2 separate regions of the Homo sapiens genome follow, and region 1 is linked to region 2. The links come from fine-mapping of genetic effects on gene expression. A gene starts in region 2. The other region holds a variant in brackets. All regions are shown on one strand. Distances are between the middles of the regions.

The links. PIP is the estimated chance that this variant, and not a neighbour inherited with it, causes the effect. A credible set is the group of variants that fine-mapping cannot tell apart.
Region 1: its variant is the best candidate, but not a certain one, in a credible set for the expression of GRIA2 in aorta (GTEx, PIP 0.75).

The regions. Positions count from the first base shown.
Region 1 is chr4:157,915,948-157,920,348 of GRCh38, forward strand. All of the region lies in intron 3 of LOC105377509 (a long non-coding RNA gene), which reads right to left. Among named protein-coding and RNA genes, the nearest start is that of GASK1B-AS1, 250 kb to the right of the region's middle. The variant T/A (reference allele first, on the strand shown) is at 2,253.
Region 2 is chr4:157,217,991-157,222,331 of GRCh38, forward strand. It overlaps GRIA2 (glutamate ionotropic receptor AMPA type subunit 2), which reads left to right and starts at 2,738. Exons shown (of 16, transcript NM_001083619.3): 1 at 2,738-3,140; 2 at 3,677-3,817. The coding sequence starts at 3,053.

The sequences.
Region 1 (4,401 bases), 700 kb after region 2:
CAGGCGTGGTGGCCAGTGTCTGTGATCCCAGCTACTTGGGAGGCTGAGGCAGGAGAATTGCTTGAACCTGGGAGGCAGAGGTTGCAGTGAGCCAAGACTGTGCCATTGCACTCCAGCCTGGGGAACAAGAGTGAAACACCATCTCAAAAAAAAAAAAAAAAGAATGTAAACCATTAAATGAGATCTTCACAATCTCTTCTGAGATCTGTTTGCACTTTTCCTAAACATCACTAGCAAAATCATTTCTGCAGATCCCTGTAAGTTTGCTTACTCATTATATTAGTTTTTTATTGCTGTGAAAATTTAACGCAGAGTCAGTGGCTTAAATTCACATGGAGTGTGTTATCTTATAGTTCTGCAGGTCAAAAGTCTGGTACAGGTCCTAATGGGCTAAAATCAGGGTTTCAGCAGGCTTGTGTTGCTTTCTGGAGTCGCTATAAGAGAATCCATCCATTCACTGGCCTTTTCCAGCTTCTAGACCAAGCTCGCATTCTTCAGCTCCTAGCCATTTTCTCCAACTTCCAAGTAAGTAAAAGTGCATTAAGTCTATCTCACATCACATCACCTTGACCTTCTCTTCAGCTTTCCTCTTTCACTTTTAAGACCCTTGTGATTACATTGGGCCTACCTGGATAATATAAGATATTCTTTTCATTGAAAAAAAAAAGCAGATTAGCAACTATAATTCCATGTAGAACCCTAATTTCCCTCTGCCAGATAACAGGGATTAGGATGTGGATGTCTTTTGGAGACTGTTGGTCAGCTTCCCACATTTATGTATCTCTTCAAGAGTGTTGCCTCAACTCCATCAGTTTCAATCCATTCAACATAATATCTAACATTCATTGAGTGCTACCATATGCTAATCAGTGTGCCAAACATGTTATGAATTTAGTAACCATATAGAAAATGTGTGTGAGGAGGGAGAGTGGAAAGGGATTTCAGCTTGATTTTTATTCGTCTGAAACTTCCCACTCCTATTTCATCTCCGCATGCAGTTCACTCCGTTTCCCTTCCTGCCTTCAGGGTTTTTGGCCAAAAGAAAATAATGTTCTTCTTAGAAACAATCTATGAAAATACAATTTTCTTTCCCCAACACATTTGTACTTTACTGCAAGTATACGCCACATTGTCAACTCTGCTGGGCATGTGGCTACATATAATCTGTTTTTTTTTAATTTTGTTTTGTTTTGTTTTGTTTTGTTTTTTGTTTTTGAGACAGAGTCTTGCTCTGTCGCCAGGTTGGAGCGCAGTGGCGCAATCTCGGCTCACTGCAACCTCCACCTCTCAAGTTCAGCCAATTCCCCTGCCTCAGCCCCCCGAGTAGCTGGGACTACAGGCATGTGCCACCACGCTCTGCTAATTTTTTGTATTTTAGTAGGGATGAGGTTTCACCATGTTGGCCAGGATGGGTCTTGATCTCCTGACCTCGTGATCTACCTGCCTCAGCCTCCCAAAGTGCTGGGATTACAGGCGTAAGCCACCGCACCTGGTCTAATCTGTTTTTTAAAGAGTAGTTTGCTCTATAATTTGATTTTAAAAAAGGTTTTCATACTCTAGAATTTAATTTGAATACCTTCATAGGATTGAACTGTGTGGCTGCAGGACCATGCTTTTTTATGGTGTTTTCTATTTCTGTTTCCAGGTAAAACTTTATTATTATTATTAATGTTGTTTGGTTTAAAATATCATTATGACCATAATCTGAAAGAAAAAAGGGAGAAAAAGTTGGAAGAAGTGGGAATCTAACCTTATAGCAAGACGTAGATGTTAAATACATTTTTTTCATTATTCTTCCCTTAACTCCTTTCTTTAGTTTCCTTTCTTACCCTCTTTTTTTCCTTTTTTTATTTCTTCCCTCTTTCCTTCCTTAATCAAAACATTATCAAAGCCCTCTTATATTCAGAGCTTTTAAAATTCTACCCTTCTGTTTTGAGAAACTTGTAAAAATAAGAACATTTTGTTTAGAAAAGTTCTTAATAAAATAGTAAACTAAACAAAGAGGTCTAGAAATATTTTTCTACATGTTCAGATTATGGTCATGATGGTATTTAAATTAAAACAGCATGCACAAATTCTATTCCAGTTCAAAGACATAGGAAATAAATATTTTATGTAAAAAATATTAAATTTTAAAAATGGATATTTACGGTCTATTACATAAAATTTGAATTTAATGGAAGAATTGAAAAACAAGGACTAAATCAAAGTAAAAGCTTTTTACCATTTTTCCTGGCAGTAAAATGTCTTTG[T/A]CATAAAGTAATCAGAGTCTTGAAATTCTTTCCATTTTCTGAGATCAAGCATTCCATTTAAGCACAGACTTCTTTCTCCTAAGGCTGTTAATTATTACCAAGAATAAAGAAGTTATCTACAAATCAGAGATGCACATTGGCACAGAGGACAAAATTTTACATCAATAAATTAGATATGAAGCAAGTAACAATGACTTAATATTTATTTATTTTTCAAACCAAATAGAATTGGTATTATAAAACAAAAGGTCAGTTTTTTATAACAACCAATACAGTACCAGACATTAAGAAGACTTTCATTTGATTTGATGTGTAGGTATTATTTCATTCTGTTGTACAGCAATTGCAAAATCTATTTATTTCTGGAGTTGCCCTGTACTTACCCTCCAATCACAATGCAGAGAACCCCAATGCTTGGTTAATCACTCATGACTCCCCAGAGGCCAACTTTCAGTGGTACTAAGTGCTGCTTGCTTGTAATGCCCCACTTTCTGTGATTTCTCTCCCTCCCACCGTCTTTTCCCACAAACATTTCTTGCTTACCTGATCCACATCAGGAGCTACATGCTGAGGATTCAAATGTAATAAGGCTGTAAGAAGACTGGGCTCTTTCCCCCACAGAGTTCAGTCAAATGGAGAGAGAGAGACTTACAAAGTGGTAAGTGGTTTCCTACAATGTCTTTCCAACTTTTTTGAACACTCTCCATAAAAAATAAAAATAAAAATAAAACATTGTTTCAATATTGTAGATACCTGCATCAGGATAAAAAATAATTCATAAAGCATTATTTACTATTGTTATGCATGATATGATATCCTCTATTTTATTTTTTCTATCTCTTTTCTTCAAGCTAACCAAAACTTAGGAAATTGTTTTAATGGCCCACAATGTTACAACTCAACATTAGAGAAATATGGCTCCAGAAGATGTATGAAGACAAACAATTCCAAAAGACAGAGATACAGTATATTGTATTTACCATGGCAACCCCAAATGTTTAGCAAACTCTGTAGCATAGATTAGCTATCCAACATCCACTAGTTGAATGGATGAATGGATGAATGGATGGTTGGAATAAATGTTTTAATCACTCCGAAACTCTTTACAGGTCATCAGGAAAAGTTTTACTACAGAGGGAAGACTTGGGTAAGATGTGAAAGATTAGCTGTATTTTTCAGAGAAAACTATTACCTAACTGCCTATAATGGTGGAGGTATGAGAAAGCATGGAATGTTTGAGATGTAACAAGTAAATCAGAATGACTACTATTTTCCAAGGTGACGAACTCATTCAGCCCTTTAGCTTTAAAAAGCTTTAATTTTTTTTTTTTTTTTTTTTTTTTTTTTGAGACGAAGTCTCTCTGTGTAGCCCAGGCTGGAGTGCAGCGGCGCAATCTCGGCTCACTGCAAGCGCCGCCTCCCAGGTTCACGCCATTCTCCTACCTCAGCCTCCGGAGCAGCTGGGACTACAGCCCGTCACCAAAGCCTGGCTAATTTTTTGTATTTTTTTAGTACAGACAGGGTTTCACCGTGCTAGCCAGGATGGTCTCAATCTTCTGAAATCATGATCCGCCCGCCTTGGCCTCCAAAAGTACTGGGATTACAGGCGTGAGCCACCGCGCCGGGCCTAAATTTTATCCATATCCTGATGATGCCAAATTTATTGATTTAGTCCTCACCTCGCCCTGAGCACCAAACATTTATTTTTAATTATCTTCTTAAACTCTCCACTTGGATATCCAATGGGCATGCCAAACTTAACATTTTCCAAGCAAAGACCCTTTATTTCCTACTTTTCCCAACTTATTTCCCTCCCACCTGATATTTCCCATCTTAGTTAATGGAATTGACATCTACACATTCAGTGAGCAAAAATTAAGTCTTCATTAATAGTCTAATTTCATAATCTATTCTTTTCATTGATCAATAAATCTGTTATCTTTACCTTCAAGATACATATGAATTTAACAAATTCTCATAAGCTTACCTATTACCATTTAGTCCAAATCATGACCATCTTTTGCCTGAATGACTGCACTTGTGCTTTAACCGACCTTTCTGTTTTCATTTTTGTAAGCAAACCCCCTTCAAACAAACACACAAACTATCTCCTACATAGTGGCGAGAGGGATCTTTTTCAAGGGTAAAT
Region 2 (4,341 bases):
AATTGATTGGTGATCAATTTGAAATACATATTCTTGAAATAGGAAGTTGCTACATGAAAAAATAGAGCCGTGTACATTCACAAAATAAATTCCAGTATTTTTCCATGTATTTGTATAAAGAACCATTTACTGTAGTCAATTTAAATTTATTACCCTTATATTGACAGGATTCTGTGCTTGAAACATACATGCTATTAAAACATTATAAGAAATTTGAAAAAGTCTCATGAGTGATAATATTAATAAAATTATGCTGATATAGGAAATAAGTTTCCAAATATGTGAAAGGTCTATACATAACTACCTTGTGAACATAGATACATAGAATAGCAGTTGAATTACAAGTAATGCTTGCTAAAATTTTTATTTCCACCTTATATATAAATTGTAATTGGCCACTAGACAGTAATATTTTTCTTGAGCTCTTACATATTAGTTACTATACTCTATGATTCAGCAAATTCTTATTTTTACAGCATTTGTTTTTTATAGAATGTAACTCAGTCAATTTTGAGTTCATATCTGCCCTTGACTTTGAAATAGGTTAAGATGAAAATAGTTTGAAAACATTCTTATTTTTTAAAATTCAATTCACCTGAACTCACATTTTAAACATCAAATTTTTTTCATATTGAAGCTTCCTCTCTCTCTGTCCTCGCTCTCTTTAATTCTAAGTTACTTTCTATGAAATTAAAGTTTTCCTGTGGAAACAAGTGAATCGAGAAAAAAATAACTACAGAGGTATTTTAAATTTTGCTCTGTTCTTAGTGCTTTTACATTAAAAATTTTAAATAGGTAATAATTTCCAATCATTTTGTATACCTTACATCACAAATAATGATTAAATATGTATGATTTATTTATTCTTTATGTTGCAATTTTGAATATATGTAAGTTATATCTCATTTTTTATTTTTTATCGATTTATTGTAATTTTAATTAATTTTATATATTATTTTTATTATTCAATTTTTTAAAGGTTAAATACATTTTTATTTAGAAGACCTGCTTTATATACAGTGTGGAGTACTTATAACATACTAATAAAATTCTAAGGCATAAAATTAAGAGATATTTTAGTCTATAGTTTATAAGCTTAATAATAGATTACAGCTATTCTCACTTCATGGTTTAGGACTACATCAAAAAGAGGGAAAGGTTATAATTTGAAATGACAGCAATATAGGATCCAAGAGCCATAGAAGCCACTTTGCTCATCATCATTTTTAAAATGGGGAAATTGAGGCCAATGTGATTAAGAAGCAAGCATAAGATAATCCAGTCAGCAATGAAGCTGCAAGCACAAGAAGGCAGCCTGATAGACTCATGGCATTTTGGAATACTAGCAGTTCTCTTTTTAGTACTGTAAGCTCCAATCTCCCTCTTCCTGGAAACAGTTCCTTGTTCTCAATCTTTCTTTATTTGTTTAAACCAGTAAAGACATGCAACTTGGTGGGGCTTTTCTGAGTCCGCAGAGGGAATTGTCAGAGCAGGTTTCCAGGAATGAGCTTGGAAAAAGCACCATGAAGAACATAAATTTCACACGGGAAGTCCAGTCATCCATCTCGCCATCAATTCTCTCCCTTCAAACTTTTAATATCTAACCTCATCTTTCTTTCCCTGTGGCCCGCGTGTTCAGTAGAGCGTGGTGGCTTACTTTCTTTAGGCAGTGATTTTTCGAAACCCCCGGCCAAAACGCGATGGGGAAACAGATTTCTAAGTAAGTCTCTGGGAAAGAATCTGCATCTCTGTGGCATTCCTACACTAGCTTCATCTTCTAATCACTTTCCTCTAATAGCCTTTCCTTAAACCAGAGTCTCTTGCTTTCAATCTGCATAAAGCAAGGGCTTCTAGGAAACCAAGTCTACATGACTCTACAAGGGAGGGATTGCAGTGAAAGCTGCGAGAAAGACCCGTGCGCTCTGTAACTAGGCGAGTCAGCATCACAGCCCAATGGAATATACTCTAAAGATGGGATTTTCATGCAAAATATTTAAAAGATTCCATCTTGATCTCTTGTGCGGCTTAAGCATTTAAAGATATAACTTGGGGTTCTCCCTGGATCCTGGCTACATCCCATGAAGCCCAAGTGCACAATTTTGGAATATTTCCTCCACGGTGCTTTGCTTGCTTGTTTGCTTTCGGCTGGGTCAGGTGAGGAGGATGACAGGGCTTCTGTATTGCTAAATGGGTTTTCACAGGAGATGGAAGATAAAAATCAAAATTATTTGTAACGTAAGACAGCAGGGCCTGGTGAGAGGACGCTTCGCCGCCAACAATTAGCAATTCGGCTTCTACACAGCAGCCGGAGATCAGCTTTGCTGCATTTGGTCCAGGTTGGAGCATCTCCGCAGCAGCTGCAACAGCCGCACGAAGGTAGCTCCGGGCGGGGAGCGAGGCGCTGTCCTCGGTGCTGAAAGGCCGAGGCGCGCGGTGGGCGCGACAGCCCCGGAGACCCGAGGTCTCGCGGAGGGACAGCGGCTACGGGCCCCGAGCTGTGCTTTCTCAGCGCCGCGCACGCGACGCGTCCACGGTGGTGCGGGGTGCCGGGCGCCGTGCGGGGGAGGGGGCGCGCGCTCCCGCCTCCTGCCGCGAGTCGCGCACGCGCGCCCGGGACTGCCTGCCCCTCTCTGTGACTTGCCTGTGTGTGTGCGTGTGTGTATGTGTGTGTGTGTGTGTGTGTGCGCGCGCGCGTGAGTGAGAGAGGAGAGAGGGAGAAGAGAGCGCGAGAGAGGGTGAGTGTGTGTGAGTGCATGGGAGGGTGCTGAATATTCCGAGACACTGGGACCACAGCGGCAGCTCCGCTGAAAACTGCATTCAGCCAGTCCTCCGGACTTCTGGAGCGGGGACAGGGCGCAGGGCATCAGCAGCCACCAGCAGGACCTGGGAAATAGGGATTCTTCTGCCTCCACTTCAGGTTTTAGCAGCTTGGTGCTAAATTGCTGTCTCAAAATGCAGAGGATCTAATTTGCAGAGGAAAACAGCCAAAGAAGGAAGAGGAGGAAAAGGAAAAAAAAAGGGGTATATTGTGGATGCTCTACTTTTCTTGGAAATGCAAAAGATTATGCATATTTCTGTCCTCCTTTCTCCTGTTTTATGGGGACTGATTTTTGGTGTCTCTTCTAACAGCATACAGATAGGTAGGTACCCTTTGTGCTATGCTTTTGAATTGTGCATAATTTGGTGGTAATCTTTGTTCACAGTGTACAAATTAATTCATGTCATGTAGACTTATGTCATACCTTGACTGCATTCCAGATTTAAACTACCTAGAATATACATGTTTTTCTTAGGATGAAGCAAAAGGAAAAGACTATGCCTTTGATACAATAGAAGAAAAGGTCCTCTCATTTCGGATCCCCAAATTTTATTAATTCTGCCTTAGCGACATTTTCCAGTTTGCTCAGATTTTCTTGGGGTCTGAATGCAAAGCTTGTGATTACATGGAAAGGTGAAGGTTTCTGGCCGCCTACCTCGCCTTCAGACTCTCATCTGGGTCTTGACCCCTTGGCTAGCTTTTGGATATTCCACCCCCGCTGTCCGAGTCCGTAGGTGTGTTTATTCGGCCTATTCGCGTGAATAAGAGACTCTTGGATTTTTGGGCGCTAGCGCGCGCCCCTCCTTTCCCTCCCGGGGCACTGACACTGTTCTCTTGCTTGCTGTTTGTTCTTTGCAGGGGGGCTATTTCCTAGGGGCGCCGATCAAGAATACAGTGCATTTCGAGTAGGGATGGTTCAGTTTTCCACTTCGGAGTTCAGACTGACACCCCACATCGACAATTTGGAGGTGGCAAACAGCTTCGCAGTCACTAATGCTTGTAAGTAATGAATATTCATGCCTTTCGGGTGCTGCACGCGGAAGGCCAGCGAGTGTGAGTGTGTGTGTGCGTTTCTGGGGTGGTGTGTGTGCGTTTCTGTGTGTCAGTGTGTGGGTGTGAGTGACTGCACACACGCGTGCGTGTGACCGTGTAGAGAGAAGGTGGCTGTAATCTCAGGGACCCCCGCTGGCTGGAGAGGGCTGAAGAGAGAGGGAAAGGACGTCAAGAGTGTGCGCATTAGGGAGCCGGGGTGAGGGTTGGAGCCAGGGAGGGCGGCTTTCTTGGGTTCAAGGGGTTTTCGCTCATCTTGAGTGCTTCAGGAGAAGCCCTCCCACCTCGCTCCCCATCGAGCGCCTGTTGGCACCCTGCCCACAGAGAACACGTTGTTCCCCAGGGCGCGCAGTCGGGCTGTTGGACAAATCCCACGAGGGACTGCCGGAGCCCAGTGGCCTCCTGCCCCAGCAGCTGCCGCTCTCGCCCGCTGCCCCCAGTTTAGATCCGCAGCACCGGCTGGGCTCACCCTG